Linked DNA regions of Homo sapiens: region 2 is linked to region 1. Evidence: fine-mapped expression QTL. Tissue or cell type: blood mononuclear cells. Region 1 holds a variant in brackets; the other region holds the start of a gene. All regions are shown on one strand. Distances are from middle to middle.

Region 1 (8,099 bases):
GGATCTTGCCCCTAGGGTAGCACAGCCTGTCATTGGGAGTTTCCAGACAGAAGTGTTCCCATTCCTTACTCCTAAAGGTGGACTTGAGGAGGGTCTTTGAAAGTCAGCTAGACCAATCTCTAGTTGAACCTCAAGGAGAGTGAGGTACAGAGCAGAGACTGCTGGCTTCCAGGTCTAGCTGGCTCCCACTTGGCCTGGCCAGAGAATTGGTCTGATGGTGCCCACACCTTCACCGGAGGCCCTTTGGTGACCCCATGCATGTTTCCTTTGCAGGACAAGATTAGATGCACCCCGGTTGGAAACAAAGTCCCTGAGCAGCTCCGTGTTACCACCCAGCTATGCTTCAGATCGCCTGTCAGGAAACAACAGGGACCCTGCTCTGAAACCCAAGCGGTCCCACCGCAAGGCAGACCCTGATGCTGCCCACAGGTACTCAGTTTAGGACCCTCAGCAAAGGCTGGCAAAGGCCTGGCTGCAGGGTGAGAAGGGTGGAGAAGCCTGGGGTAGGCTGTTTAGGAGCCTTGGCTTGCTCACCCTTTCAAAACCTTATGTCTGGTTCCTCTGGGTTGGTGGCATTGGTGACATTCCCATCTAACCCTGGCCAACTGCCTGTACACCCAGAGAGAAGGGGTCAGGCAGAGACTGTAACAGATGGCAATATCATGGCTTTCCCATGACTTTCCTTGTTCAGTCTCACCCAGACACCCTTGTGGAATTATACTTAGATGTCAGGAGGGAATCTTGGGACTTGGATAATAGTGAACCAGGGACTTATTTCAAAAAGGATTGGATAAAAGGTATTTGAGGAGATAATTTTTTTTAAAGGAAAAAAAATGTTTTGGCCGGCACAGTGGCTCACGCCTGTAATCCCAGCACTTTGGGAGGCCAAGGCAGGCAGATCACGAGGTCAGGTGATCGAGACCATCCTGGCTAAGACGGTGAAACCCCGTCTCTACTAAAAAATACAAAAAATTAGCCAGGCGTGGTGGCAGGTACCTGTAGTCCCAGCTCCTCGGGAGGCTGAGGCAGGAGAATGGCGTGAACCTGGGAGGCGGAGCTGGCAGTGACCCGAGATGGCACCGCTGCACTCCAGCCTGTGCGACAGAGCAAGAATCCGTCTCAAAAAAAAAAAAAATATTTTTTAAGTGTTGGGGAAGGTTTCCAAGGAGGTAATGTTTAAGTTGATTCCAGAAGGATAAGGAAGACATGGAAGAGCATTCTAGGCAGGAAATACTGTATGAGCTAAACCCTGAGATACAAAAGAGCTTTGTGGTTTCAGGGGGTAATGGGGTTAGTAAGTGGAGAAGGGGGTGTTGGGAGGCCCAAGAGAGAGAAAGTGGGTAGAGCTGGGAAGTAAAGGTAGATGGCAGAACCATGCAGAGTCTTGAGGCTGTGGTAGGGAAGACCTCTGTCCAGCAGCCCTGGCAGTGTCCCAGGGCACCAGACTCCAAGCCAGGCAGACCCCACAGGGTAATTGGGAAATGTCCCAAAGACTGGGATGGTCACTGGCACTTAGTGGGCAAGAACCTCCGATACCAGGGCCTCTGCCAGGACTACCCTTCGTTGAGGACCACTGAGCTGAAGTGACCCATCCCAAGGATGAGACGAGGTACAGCGGTAAAGCCAGGCGCCTCCTGCCAGCCTCTCAGATAACGTCCTACCTCCCTTTCCTTGCAGGCCACGGATCCTGGAGATGGACAAGGAAGAGAACCGGCGCTCGGTGCTGCTGCCCACACACCGGCGGAGGGGTAGCTTCAGCTCTGAGAACTACTGGCGCAAGTCATACGAGTCCTCAGAGGACTGCTCTGAGGCAGCAGGCAGCCCTGCCCGAAAGGTGAAGATGCGGCGGCACTGAGTCTACCCGCCGCCCTCCTGGGAACTCTGGCTCATCCTTACGTAGTTGCCCCTCCTTTTGTTTTGAGGGTTTTGTTTTTGTTCATTGGGGGGTTTTTGTTTTTTGTTTTTTGTTTTTTTTGATTCTATATATTTTTCCTTGGTTTTGTTGCCTGTTAGGGCTGAAGAATAGAATTGGCCAGGACCTAGGTTCTCATATTCTTGGTATTCCTCCTGGATGGAAAGGCTGTTGGCATCAATAGGGGACAGAGGCTGATGCTGGAGTGGCCAGTAGAGGTGGTGGAGCAGAGCAGCCATCTTTTAAGTGGGGCTGTATCAGGCTGGGTTTATTTAAAAGCAACAAAATGTTTTGGTTAAGAAAATTATTTTGCTTTCAGTGTAAATCTTCGCAGTGTTCTAAACAAAGTTCAGTCTTCTGCTCGCCCCTTTCCCTCACTGATGTCTGCACTTGGTTGAGGTCTCCTGGAGCCTCACAGGCTCTGCTGTTCTCCACTTCTCACCTGCCATCCACGCCCTGCAAGCTCATGCAAACACCCTTTCTTCCTCCTGCGGCAGAGTTGTTCAGGTTGCCTGGGCAGGGGCTTAAACAGTGCCAGCCCCTGCCATCCCAAAGCTATTGTTAAGCCCCCCAGGCGTCCTCCACCCACGCCCACTAGCCTGCCATGTCCACAGTTCCTTGGGCTGCTGAGGGGCTAGTGCAGTGGTCCTGACCTCTCTTATCAAGAGCACACTTCTTTGCTGGTTGCTCCTTTTGAGCATATGCGTGTGATTATTTGGAACAGTTAGACTTGCCACGTTGGGTCAGTTTTAGAAATTGTTTCTAGCTAGAGGGACTGGTGTCCTTCCAAGTCTAGCATTTGGGGTATGGAAAATTGTTGTGGTGTGTGGTAGGGTTTTTGTTTTCTTTTTTGAGTTTTTTTTCCCCCTTTAGTCTCCTGGCTTTTTCCTTTCCCTTCCCTTCTCCACTGGCCAGCTTGGGCCTCATCCTCATGTCATCCTTCTAGGAAGGCGCCTGCCCCATCTTGTCTGCCGGCAGCATGCATCCAAGGCCAGAGCTCAGGCCTGCAGACTGGGCTGGTGCCTCCTCCGCTTCAGGGTATGGGAGTTGGTGAAGGGGCTTTCAAAAAATAATAAGGAAAAAAAGGTAAAGTCTTTGGTAGCTTCTATCCACTCAGATCCTGGAAGGCAGCAAGGTTTTGTGGATCTAGATTCATTAGGAATGTCTTCTTGTCAGCCAGGCCAGGACCCGGGCTTGCCAAGAGCAGAGGCCCTCCCAGCAACCAGGATACCACCACTTTGGGGGCTTTGTGTACAGAGGTCCGGGTCTGAGACCTCATAGGCTGCAGAAATCTGGGGCAGCCACCATCAAGAAGCCCCTCTCAGGGGCCAGAACTCCTTTGCCAGCGTGGATTTCTCAAGTCGGGACTGCATAATTAAAGCAGTTGCAGTTTTATTTTTTTTACAGCTTTTTTCCCAAAAATGATTTGTAGTTGTGTGTGCAGCACTTCGCCCTGATATGTGTGCTCTACAATAAAAACCAAATCTAATATATTTTGAAACAGTTGTCTGATGTTGTTGTAAGAGAGGGCTTGCCTTTGGTGCTTCCTTAATCCCTTTACTTTCTTAAACTTGAAACAGGGGTTGGGGAGGCAGAGCTAGCTCATTGGCCGCCAGCGTCCCAGAGGAGTTGGTTGGTCTTGGACACTGGGCCTCCTGTGTGCCTAGCCTTGG[G/A]TTTATGGCTGAAGGTGGACTTGCCCTCACCCCACTGTCCTTTCTCCCACTCCAAGGAGGGTGAACTTCATAAACCACAATGTCCAGGTGCCCAGGGACCACACCTTCTGGAGTTCTGGAAGTCCCTCTTTTAGATATGATCACTGAGAGGCTGGTGCTGGTGAAGGGGGAGATGGCAGGCACAAAAGCAAGGGAGAACCTGGCTTTTGTGGAAAATATGCGAGTGATTTTGCTCATTAAACAAATACTTGGCCAGGCACGGTGGATCACCTGAGCTCAGGAGTTCAAGACCAGCATGGGCAACTTGGCAAAACCCCATCTCTACTAAAAATACAAAAATTTAGCCAGGTGCGTTTAGCTGTGGTCTCAGCTACTAGTGAGACTGAGACAGACAAGAATTGCTTGAGCCTGGGAGGCACAGGTTGCAGTAAGCCGAGATTGTGCCATTGCACTCCAACCTGGGCAACAGAGCAAGACCTTGTCTCAAAAAAACAAAAAAAAAAATTCTTGAGTTCCTATTGTATACCAAGCCACACTGGGACCCCAATAGTGAGCAAAACTCTGGTCCCTCCTTTCAAGATGCTCATGATAGTGTGGAGTGCAGGTACTGGCATGAAGCAGATGTTTTTCAATGGGTAAGGCTGGGGCCCAGAGGGCTTTAGTCCCTCCAGACTTCAGACCTGGCTCCCTATGCCTGGTAAAGGGCTTCTATCTAGAGTCTCTTACTCTGTTCTAGTGCTCAGAGCTAGTCTGCTTGGCCAAATTCTTGCTGTGGAAACTTGGATAAGCTGCTTACCTCCACATTTACCAGAGAAGAGAGACTCCAGAGTGGGGCAAGTAACTGGCCCAGGCTTGGTCTAAAAACTAGTGCGAGGGTCTGAAGAGAGAGGGGCCAGAGTCTCAAGTGTGGTCTGGGGCTAGTTGGGCCTGGAGGGGTAGACACTGGGCTAGGCAGAGTGGACCTTGGATCCCCTGGAGAAGGAAACACCGGATCTGAGAGAAAGTGACTTGCAGAATGTCATCCAGAGTATAAATGGCAGAAGTAAGCATCCCCCACTCCATGCCTGAGCTTCTGACTCTTGGGGCATGGGATAGGGGCTCAGAGAAGGGCTGGGGGAGTGCGAGGAACCGTCTTTGTGGAGGACCCTATTTTCCATTGCCATTAAAAAGTCAGACTTCTGGCCAGGCGCAGTGGCTCATGCCTATAATCCCAGCACTTTGGGAGGCCGAGGTGGGCAGATCACGAGGTCAGGAGTTTGAGACCAGCCTGGCCAACATAGTGGAACCCCGTCTCTACTAAAAATACAAAAAATTAGCTGGGCATGGTGGCGGGCCCCTGTAATCCCAGCTACTTGGGAGGCTGAGGCAGGAGAATCACTTGAAGCCAGGAGGCGAAGGTTGCAGCGAGCCGAGATCGTGCCACTGCACTCCAGCCCAGCGGACAGTGCGAAACTCCATCTCAAAAAAAAAAAAAAAAAAAAAAAACTCCCAGCCTGACCAACATGGTGAAACTCCATCTCTACTGAAAATACAAAAATTAGCTGGGCGTAGTGCTGGGCGCCTGTAATCTCAGCTACTCAGGAGGCTGAGGCAGGAGAATCGCTTGAACCCGGGAGGCGGAGGTTGCGGTGAGCCGAGATCGTGCCACTGGACTCCAGCCTGGGCGACAGCAAGACTCAGTCTCAAAAAAACAAAAAAAAAAAAAAGTCAGACTCAGCCAGGAACAGTGGCTCATACCTGTAGTCCCAGCATTTTGGGAGGCCAAGATGGATGAGCCCAGGAGTTTGAGACCAGCCTGGGCAACACAGCAAAACCCTGTCTCTACAAAAATACAAAAATTAGCCAGGTGTGGTTGTATGCACCTGTAGTCCCAGCTACTTCAGAAGCTGAGGTGGGAGATCACTTGAGCCCAGGAGGTCAAGGCTGTAGTAAGCCGAGATCGCGTCACTGCACTCCAGCCTGGGTGACCCTGTCTCAAAAAAAAAAAAAAAGATTCGGGCCGGGCGTGGTGGCTCATGCCTGTAATCCCAGCACTTTGGGAGGCTGAGGCAGGCGGATCATGAGGTCAGGAGTTCGAGACCAGCCTGGCCAACATGGTGAAACTCTTTCTCTACTAAAAATACAAAAATCAGCTGGGCACGGTGGTGCGTGCCTGTAATCCCAGCTACTCAGGAGGCTGAGACAGGAGAATTGCTTGAACCTGGGAGGCGGAGGTTGCAGTGAGCTGAGATCACGCCACTGCACTCCAACCTGGATGACACAGCGAGACTCTGTCTCAAAAAAAAAAAAAAGGATTCAGCCTCTTCCCAATCCCTGGGTGAAAAAGGCCCTTCACCCTGTAGTATGGAGAGATAGGAGGACTAGAGGAGGGGGCTTTGGCCCTAGCAGTTCCTGCTGTCTCTCTACCTGTACAGTAGCACTCTATCTCTGTAACATAATCCTCTGAGTAGTCCCTAGAACTCTACATCTGATTCTGGATCTGCCTGATCTGATTCTGGATCTGCCTGTTCCCAGCCATCTCCTAGGGCCTCAGGCCAGGTGCTGAGTCCCATCAACCCCTGTCCCTAGCCCAGTCTTCTACACAGTAGATGCTCTAACAGCTGGTGCCATCCCTCACCCCGCTAGGACCCCATCCCATTCCTCCAACCCTTTTGTGTGGAAGGGGAAACTGAGGCCCAGAGAAGTTGACTGGCCAGAGGTCACGTTCACGCATTCAAAAAATAGTGTCTGGCCAGGCGCAGTGGCTCATGCCTGTAATCCCAGCATTTTGGGAGGCCAAGGCAGGTGGATCACTTGAGGTCAGGAGTTTGAGACCAGCCTGGCTAACATAGTGAAACCCCATCTCTACTAAAAATACAAAAATTAGCTGGGCATGGTGGTGCGTACCCATAGTCCCAGATAACTCGGGAGGCTGAGGTGGGAGAATCACTTGAACCCAGGAGGTGGAGGTTGCAGTGAGCTGAGATTGCGCAGTGCTGGAGATACAAGACAGACCTAGTATATGATGTCATATACGCATAAAGTTATAAATTTTACTGATGTGAAGTATAGCATATAAATATTATTTTTGAGATGGAGTCTTGTACTGTTGCCCAGGCTGGAGTGCAGTGAGTGGAGTGATCTCCACTCACTGCAACCTCCGCCTCCCGGGTTCAAGCGATTCTCCTGTCTCAGCCTCCCGAATAGCTGGGATTACAGGCACCTGCCACCATGCCCAGCTAATTTTTTGTATTTTCAGTAGAGATGGGGTTTCACTATGTTGGCCAGGCTAGTCTTGAACTCCTGACCTCATGATCCACCCACCTCGGCCTCCCAAAGTGCTGGGATTACAGGCGTGAGCCACTGTGCCTGGCCAGCATTTAAATTATTAAAACATATATATTCTTATAAATTCCATATAACCAATCTTTTCTCACAGAAATCTATTTTAGTTTTTTTGCTGAATTACTGTATTTGTAGTCTGCTTGTGCTTATAATTCAGCCATGATATGACAAAGGGACTTGCATCATACCTGCTTGTAATAGTTTCCCGTGGCTGCCATAACAAGTCACCACAACCCTGGTGGCTTAAAACGACAAATTTATTTCTCTCAAATTCTGGGAAACTCAACATCACTGGGCTTGCCTGTCTAGTGGAAAACCTGTTCTTTGCCTCTGACAGCTTCTGTTAGCTGTTAACATTCCTTGACTTGGGAACGGGCAGATTCACGTCTCTGCCTCCATGGTCACATGGCCTCCTCCTCTGTGTACCACATCTCCTCTTTTTTTTTTTTTTTTTTTTTTTAAAGACAGAGTCTCACTGTCACCCAGGCTGGAGTGCAATGGCTGGATCACAGCTCACTGCAGCCTTGACCTGCCAGGTTCAAGCAATCTTCCTGCCTTGGCCTCTCAAACTGCTGGGATAACAGGTGTGAGCCACTGTGCCTGGCTTCTGCCTCTCTCCTAATAGGACATTCACGATTGGATTTAGGGCCCCTCTGTCACCCAGGCTGGAGTGCAGTAACATGATCTCGACTCACTGCAGCCTCAAACTCCTGGGCTCAAGTGACCCTCCTGCCTCAGCCTCCCAACCTCAGGTGTGCACACACCACTACACCCTGCTAATTTCTTTAAAAAAATTTTGGGCCAGGCGCGGAGGCTCACACCTGTAATACCAGCACTTTGGGAGGTGGAGGCGGGCAGATCACGAGGTCAGGAGATCAAGACTATCCTGGCTAACATGGTGAAAACCTGTCTCTACTAAAAAATACAAAAAATTAGCCAGGCATGGTGGCGGGTGCCTGTAGTCCCAGCTACTCGGGAGGCTGAGGCAGGAGAATGGCGTGAACCCAGGAGGTGGAACTTGCAGTGAGCTGAGATGCGCCACTGCACTCCAGCCTGGGCGACAGAGCAAGACTCCGTCTCAAAAAAAAAAAAAAAAAAAAAAAATTTGTAGGCCGGGCGTGGTGGCTCACACCTGTAATCCCAGCACTTTGGGAGACCAAGGTGGGTGGATCACCTGAGGTCAGGAGTTC
Region 2 (8,093 bases), 26 kb before region 1:
AGGCTGAGGCACAAGAGTCACTTGCACCCAGGAGGCGGGGGTTGCAGTGTGTCGAGATCGCGACACTGTACTCCAGCCTGGGCGACAGAGCGAGACTCGGTCTCAAAAAAAAAAAAAATTTAGAATTTCATCCCAAGAGCCATGAGCAGCCTTCAAAGGTTTTCCAGAGGGGGAAGGGGAGGCACAACCTGCACAGACTGTACTTTGTTAAAGCCATTCTGACCACTGAACGGTGAGTGAATGTAGGAGTTGGGGAGACCAGAGGGGGCTGCTGCAGTGTTAGCTGGAAAACTTGTCATAGATTCTAGTGGTGGTGATGGGTGGGGAGAAGTTGGTAACTGGGGAGAGATTAGAAGGCCCAGCTGGCAGGACTAGGGGGTCAATCAGACCATCCTGGGATGGAGAGGATCAAGAAAGAGCCCCTGATACAAATGCCACAGGGCTGTCCTGCTTTTCACCACTGCCTTGGGTTGGCTTTCCCCAGAAGCAGACCCCAAGGTGAGGAAAGTAAGGAACTCACCAGAAAGAGTGTGGTGTCAATCAAGTTACCACTGTGCAGGGGCCATGCCTGGCAGCAGCTCACTTAACCCCTGGGGTTCTGCCTGCGGCGCTGATGCTCAGTATAGGGACCCCCAAAACAGAGCACAGTGGGCTCCAACATGAGGCAGCCCTGAGGCCTGCCCTCTGCCCCTCATTTCTCATTGTTGTGAGATCATACATGGTGTGTGTGAGGGGGAGGGGGTGTCAGGCTAATTCTTTTGCCCCAAAACCTTTTCCCTAGTCAAGCTGAACTATGAGGCTCAGGAAGGGATGATGTGGCAGAGTGAAAACGAGGGGGCCCTTTTGGCTTTCAGAATACAACTGGGGCCTCCCACACAGACTACAAGCGGCTTCTTGGAAGTAGATCATCCAGGTTGAGCCAAAATGTGAATCACCTCTTCTCTAGGTTGACACAGCCTCTCCCATAACGGACACTGCATTGGAAGCTTCCCTGTGTTCCTCCCTGACTGCTCTTGAGCTAGGACTCTCCCCTCTCGGAGCCCCGGTGAGGGACAGCACAGATTCTGGAACCAGGCAGCCTGGGTTTGAATCATCACTAGGCCACATACTCGCTGTATGGCCTTGGGCAAGTCATTTCACCTCTCTGGGCCTGTTTCCCTATATATACAATGGTAATAATAATAATGCCCTCCTCATTGAATTGTTTGGACGATTAATTGGGCTAGTATATGCACAGGTCCTGGCACATAGTAAAAACTTGATAAGCTTTTTAAAAAAATGTCCATTCCAGGCTGGGCGCAGTGGCTTACGCCTGTAATCCCAGCACTTTGGGAGGCCGAGGCAGGAGGATCTTGTGCCCAGTAGTTCCAAGACCAATTTGACAACATGGTGAAACCCCATCTCTGCTAAAAACAGAAAAATTAGCGGGGTGTGGTGGTACACGCCTCTACATAGTTCCAGCTACTCAGGAGGCTGAGGTGTGGGAGGATGTCTTGAACCCGGGAGGTCGAGATTGCAGTCAGCCAAGATCGTGCCACTGCACTTCAGCCTGGGCAACAGAGACTCTGTCAAAAAAGAACGAGGAGGAGGAGGGGAAGGGGGAGAGAGAGAGGGAGACGGGTGATAAGGAACTGGCATGGGCAACAGCCATGGCAAACAGCCTGGGCAAAGGCCAGGAGGTGAGACACAGTATGTTTGTAGACCTGGCTTACAGGATGAGGACCAGGCTGGGGCTCAGTGTACATGGAAAGAGAGGAGAGGAGGAGCCAAGGCCAGAAGAGTCTTGAAGAAAAGCTTTGAGTGCCAAATAAAGCAGGGGAACTTTATCCTGGGAGACATGGGAGATTTTCCAGCAGATCCCCCCCGACCCCCATTTGTTGGAGCCCTCCAGTGCATCCTGCACGGCTACGCCTTTTTGTTTTGTTTTGCAGCTCTGTCGCCCAGGCCGGAGTGCAGTGGCGCCAGCTCGGCTCTCTGCAGCCTCAATCCCCTGGGCTCAAGGGATCCTCCCACCTCAGCCTCCTGAGTAGCTAGGACCATAGGCGCGCGCCACCACGCCCAGTTCATTTTTAAAAATTTTATTGTAGAGATGGGGTTGCCATGTTGGCCAGGCTGGTCTCAAACTCCTGGGCTCAAGTGATCCGCCCGCCTTGGCCTCGCAAAGTGCTGGGATTACAGGCGTGAGGCCCCGCGCCCGGCAACGCCTTTGCTGACTGCTTCAAAACTTTTTTGAATTGACTGTAGTCATTATCTATAGCTTAGCCTTAGCCTTGCGCCCGTTCGTTTCCTGGAGTTTTCTTCCAGAGTCCCCGTAGGAGGTGCCCCCACGCCCATCTCCAGCACCAAGGAGGCTCGACGCCAACCCCAGCGCGCCCCCACGCTCGCCGTCACCGGGACGTGACTCGTGAAACGTCCGCTCCGGGCGGCGGCGGCAGCGGCGGCAGGCTGGCTTGTACCCCGACAACGCGCGTCTGGCTTCTGCCGGACGTTCCTATCTGGGTTCAGAACTGGGGCCGGGTGCTGCAGGTCCCGCAGTCTGAGAAGTTTTCGCGGGTTTCAGAAGTTTCCTTAGGCGTTCTAAGGGCTTTACTCAGGTGGAGTCTCCATTCAGGCACTTATTTAACCACCCATTTCTCCTTTAGGGGTCCTCGCTGCTCGCCCAGCCGCTAATTAAGTGACGGACACAGTAGCTAAGGAGACTGCCTGATTGACACGCATGATTACCAACCGACTTCCGGAAACTCCAGTCAGGGCCTGCCCGGCGCGTGGCCCACGGCCCAATTAAAGAAGTGGAAGCGCCAAAGGGGGAGGTAACGGAGCGGCCTACGTTGTGGCGGTTCCCTGGTGAATGCGCCCTGGGGTTGAGGCGTCTGCGGGCGTTCGGACGATGCCGTGACGCGGCACGGCGACACTGTTGGCAATATGAGCGCACCCCTGTAGAGGGAGCCCTTCGGTCCTGGAGGCGGCGCGGCGTGAAGACAGGTTGCTATTTGAGAGCGTTCCCTTGAAGCCCCTCAGAGAGTGGGGGAGGGGCGGCGGACGGCAAGCGGTTCCTGTCTGCGCTTGCGCCGGCGCCTCTGCCGACCCGGCCTGCACGCACGCGCATGCCCGTAGCGCGCGGAGCCGCGGTGGCCGGCAGCACTGCGCGTGCGCGGTGAGGAGCCCGCTAAGGAGCGGCGCTGGCGGACGTCGGGCTGGCTGCCCGTGACGTCGTGCGGAGAGCTTTAAAGTGCGGGCCGGGCCGGGCGTCCGAGGGTCTGGTCGGGAGTCGGGCCGCGTCTCCGCAGCAGCCCTCCGCGGCATGAGGCGCTGCCGGCGCCCCTGCCCCGCGGGACGTGGAGAAGGTGGAGGAGGAAGAAGCCCCGTTGTCGCCACCGTTGCATGACCCGCCGCTCCTGAGGCCCTACCCCACGCCCGGACCCTCGACGCCCCCCGCCGGGTCCCCCACTCACGCATGGGGGTTCGGCGCTAAGGACCCCCCTCCCTCCGGGGGCCCCGGGGCGCGTCCCCTTAGAGCCATGCCCGGCTGCCCCGCCCGCCCCGGAGGACCCTAGAGCAGCGTCGTGGGGGCCATGGCGGCCGCCAGCGGCTACACGGACCTGCGTGAGAAGCTCAAGTCCATGACGTCCCGGGACAACTATAAGGCGGGCAGCCGGGAGGCCGCCGCCGCTGCCGCAGCCGCCGTAGCCGCCGCAGCCGCAGCCGCCGCTGCCGCCGAACCTTACCCTGTGTCCGGGGCCAAGCGCAAGTATCAGGAGGACTCGGACCCCGAGCGCAGCGACTATGAGGAGCAGCAGCTGCAGAAGGAGGAGGAGGCGCGCAAGGTGAAGAGCGGCATCCGCCAGATGCGCCTCTTCAGCCAGGACGAGTGCGCCAAGATCGAGGCCCGCATTGACGAGGTGGTGTCCCGCGCTGAGAAGGGCCTGTACAACGAGCACACGGTGGACCGGGCCCCACTGCGCAACAAGTACTTCTTCGGCGAAGGCTACACTTACGGCGCCCAGCTGCAGAAGCGCGGGCCCGGCCAGGAGCGCCTCTACCCGCCGGGCGACGTGGACGAGATCCCCGAGTGGGTGCACCAGCTGGTGATCCAAAAGCTGGTGGAGCACCGCGTCATCCCCGAGGGCTTCGTCAACAGCGCCGTCATCAACGACTACCAGCCCGGCGGCTGCATCGTGTCTCACGTGGACCCCATCCACATCTTCGAGCGCCCCATCGTGTCCGTGTCCTTCTTTAGCGACTCTGCGCTGTGCTTCGGCTGCAAGTTCCAGTTCAAGCCTATTCGGGTGTCGGAACCAGTGCTTTCCCTGCCGGTGCGCAGGGGAAGCGTGACTGTGCTCAGGTAACCCACCCGGGTGGAGGGGGCGGCCCTGCGCCTGCTGCCTTAGCTACCCACCCTGGCCCAGAAAGCAGCAGCCCGTAGGAGTCTGCGTTTTTTACAGTTCTGACCAGTTCTTCTGTTTGTAGATTGTAGGGAGCGAGAGAAGGGTTTTGTGTTTAAGATACCTATAGCAAGAAAATAGGGAACCGATGTGGAAATCCTGTCCCCGAAGGCAGGTTTGACGGGATCACTGACTTGGCTGAGAATTCATCGAAAGCCATCTTTTCAGAAGGCTGTTCCCTTTGATTTTTTTTTTTCCCACCATCCATTTCTTAGCATAAGTCCCTTTGTGATTTTCCGGTTTTCCATTCTGGCCTTCCATTTACAAATCTATGCTTTAAAATTTTTTTTTTTTTTAATTTATCTAAAAGTCTTTCTTGTTCTGCCATTTTTGGATTCCTTAACAGAGAAAGTAGTCACAGGCAAAGGCCCCAGAGATTATTTAATTGAAGCACATTCTCCATTCCCAGGAGGGGGAGTGACTTCCCTGGAGTTGAACAGATTAGTGGTTGGGCCAGGCATACAGAGCAGCACACTCTTAAAATTCTTCCCTCCTGGCTGCAGAAGAGCCCATCAGTTCTTTGTAAGAACGTGTTACTTGTAGTCAGGACTGAATACAACAGAATACAGCTGGTCTCTTGACTGTTTGGCCTTACAGTTGCGTGAGCAGCAGAACTTAGGCTTTTGGCCTATATTCGGTTCCCAGATCCTGCTGAGAATTAGCTCAGTGCCCTGGCCCCCAGAGGAGATTGCCATTGGGAACACCTTTGCTGTTTATGTGAAGTGAAAATTTATTTGGAAGCGGCCTCCTTCCAGTCCTGAAAAAGGTAAACCTAGTAATGTAATTCAGTAATACCCAAAACATCTTAGGTTTAGACCGCAGCTGTTCTCAGAGCAGCTTGGTTGACCACCACCAAATACAAGGTTGAGGACACACTGGGCTTTTGTCGTGAGCAGCCCAGGTTCTGAAGTGAGTCAGTAGGGCCAAAGTCATGAGGAGAAGCAGGGTCCCTGGAGCCTTCTTGATATGAGATTAGGTCATCTGTTTCATTTGAGTCTAACAGCTGAGGCTGCTTCCATGTTGGGGATGGCAGCAGAGCCTTGTAATGTCCAAGACGTCCTGGTGGGAAGGTGGGAAGTCAGTAGTAGCAGAAGCGATACTTTAGCTCTTTAGGCATCTGAAACTTAGAGGACAGCCTAGCTGTCAGATGCCTTCTTATAATGGGCTTCTGAGCTTCTCAGATCTTCATGGCGCTCCTAGATGGATGTCTTGGCAAAATGCTTTAAGATGGGATTTCCAGGACACACCCTCTCCGGGTGCTTGCTGTGTAAGGCAGGTTGGGGTCTGACCCCATTGACGGGTTCTCAGTGCAAAAATTACCTCACACAAGGACCATTTGGTCTCTTAGCGGGATATTAATTTTCTGCGTAGTCATTGGCCCTCAGGGTGGTTGTCAGGAGGTCTAGTAGTGGTCTGGTGCTTAATGAGGGGATCACAAGGCATTTTTTTTTGGTTTTGGGACTACTACTCTCCTTAACACATGCCCACCCTGTATTTTAAGAACAGAAGTTTCGAGTTCTTAGTATGCAGGTCTGTTAGTGATCAGCAACAGGATTGCATCATCAGGAAAATTCTCTTCATCTTTTCCTCAGAATAGTAAAGTCCTAAAGCTTTCCCAGTCCCTGTCAACCCTTTCTGGATTCAGACTTGGCTGTGGTGTTAGTGTGGGAGGCTCAGCCATGTCCTGAAAAGTGCTGCCCCAGGCTTTGAATCCAGCTTTTCTCTCATTTGCTTTGGGATCTTGTAGGCGTTCTCTGAGCTGGCTTTCCCATCTGTAAGTGGGGATGATGCCAACTTCCAAAGCCTATTAGAATTAAATGTGGTGATTTGTTGTCTAAGATAGGGCCTGGCACAGGGTAGGTACTTAAATGGGTGCTTGCTTTCATATACAACCACTCAGTGATCCCCTGCTCTCTCACTGGGGAAGGAACTAGGGATTTGGTGGAGCCTGAAACATGACAGTTTCCCTTCGTGTAGTTCAAGCCCCATGGAGGCCTCAGACAGGAGGATAAGTTATAGCCCAGGAAGGTAACTGCAGAAGCACACTGAAGGGGGACATCTTTTCCACTTTGGAGTGTTGGAAGTTTAGGGGAGGAAATGAACTGGAATGTGAAAAGTGACTAGGAATGAGCCAAGCAGAGAAAGGTGGAGAAATACACAACAGCAGTGTCTTTGGCTGCAGTAGCAGGAGTAGCCATAGGTAAGAGGGGGTGGATGTTGATGGGAGGCAGATGGAGTTCATTAGTAGAGACTGTGGTTGAGGGTGCTCTGGTGAACTCTAGATCAGGGCTTCTCAACAGTGCTATTGTTATTCAGGGCTTGATAATGCTTCATTGTTGAGGCTGTTCGTGCATTGTAGACTGTTCAGCAGCATTCCTGGCTTCTATCTGCTAGGTGCCAATAGTGTTTTTTATGACAACCAGAAAGTGTCCAGACACTGCCAAATGCCGAGGCAGGGGAAGTGCAGAATCCTTAGTTGAGAGTCACTGCTCTAGGGTCTGGACCCTTCCACTAATTAAATCTTCTTGCACCTGCATACTTAGCTTACCTTGGTATGCAGGTGGGTGAACACCTGCCTATTAGTAGTGCCCGTCGTCAAATCCTGCATATAAACTGGTAAGAAGTGGTGCTTTCTCTTTTCCTGGTACAGATCCTAGCCCAGAGGTGATGAGCAGTAAAGCTGCAGATTGGAAGGGAGGGGCTGGTGAAAACAGTGGTGCGGTGCAGATGGGGAGGGATTCTAGTAGTAGGCATCTTAGACTTCAGTTGGTGTTGGTGGCAATGGTATCTGTACCCCTCTAAGACCGCATGGCAAGAATACAATTTTATATTTAATAGTGATCAGCATGGATGTTGGTGCGTCACAAACATTGACTCAGCAGTGTCTAAACCTGGGCATTTAGAACAAGGCCTCACAGAATCTTCTGGAAGTGCTTCAAACTCCTTTCCAAACCTAGTCGTCAGTTGTTTTTTGTAACCTTCCCATGTTAGGCCTGGGTGGATCCCCTCTTAAGGCTGTACTTTAGGGAAATATTTTTTATCTTCATATCACTTTATCTGTCATTCATTCTCCTATTCCCTGTTGGCTGCATGGGGCAGATTAAAACAGACTCTGATTGGACTAATTAGAATAATTACTTCAAGGCTAATTGCTTACTTGCTGCTATCTTTAATCACTGCTACGTGGTCTGTGGTGTGGTGGCCACATGCCCAGAGACCCAGGCCTAGGCCAGCCGTCTGGAAATGACTGTATCACCCAGGCACGGGGCATGCACTGGTGAGCTCAGCCTGTGACTCTTCCAGTTAACGGTTGGTATTGGGTGGAGTGGGCACCCCTGTCAGTTCTGGGATAGTCTGATCTTGTTCAGCTGGTTGAAAGCAAAATTTAGCTTTCTGGCTTAAAATAGTTGGGAAAGTAGGGCAGATAGGTCCTGGGCCACATCTCTTGTGTGGACTCTTCTGATTCCACTGGAGGGGGAGGAACCACAGGATGAAGTCAGGGCTGTGCACCGTCAGGAGGAGCTCTGGGCCAGGGGGGTTGGCTGCCCTTGCTGCTGCCAGAGCCTGACAAGGCAGAGGGCAGTAAAAGAAAGGAAGCTAACAGTGAACCATGGTGTTAATCATGAAGCTCAGAGCAAGCAGAGAATAAAT

What was found. PIP is the estimated chance that this variant, and not a neighbour inherited with it, causes the effect.
Region 2: it holds the start of ALKBH5, and the variant in region 1 is fine-mapped to the expression of ALKBH5 in blood mononuclear cells (TOPMed, PIP 0.96).

What each region holds. Positions count from the first base shown.
Region 1 is chr17:18,206,542-18,214,640 of GRCh38, forward strand. ALKBH5 (alkB homolog 5, RNA demethylase) reads left to right here. Exons shown (of 4, transcript NM_017758.4): 3 at 274-429; 4 at 1,678-3,413. The coding sequence ends at 1,855. Among named protein-coding and RNA genes, the nearest start is that of LLGL1, 15 kb to the right of the region's middle. The variant G/A (reference allele first, on the strand shown) is at 3,586.
Region 2 is chr17:18,180,672-18,188,764 of GRCh38, forward strand. ALKBH5 (alkB homolog 5, RNA demethylase) reads left to right here and starts at 3,157. Exons shown (of 4, transcript NM_017758.4): 1 at 3,157-4,342. The coding sequence starts at 3,573. RefSeq lists silencers at 824-1,118, 3,255-3,554, 3,635-3,724, 3,883-4,034, 5,258-5,307 and enhancers at 2,545-2,744, 2,805-3,044, 3,152-3,989.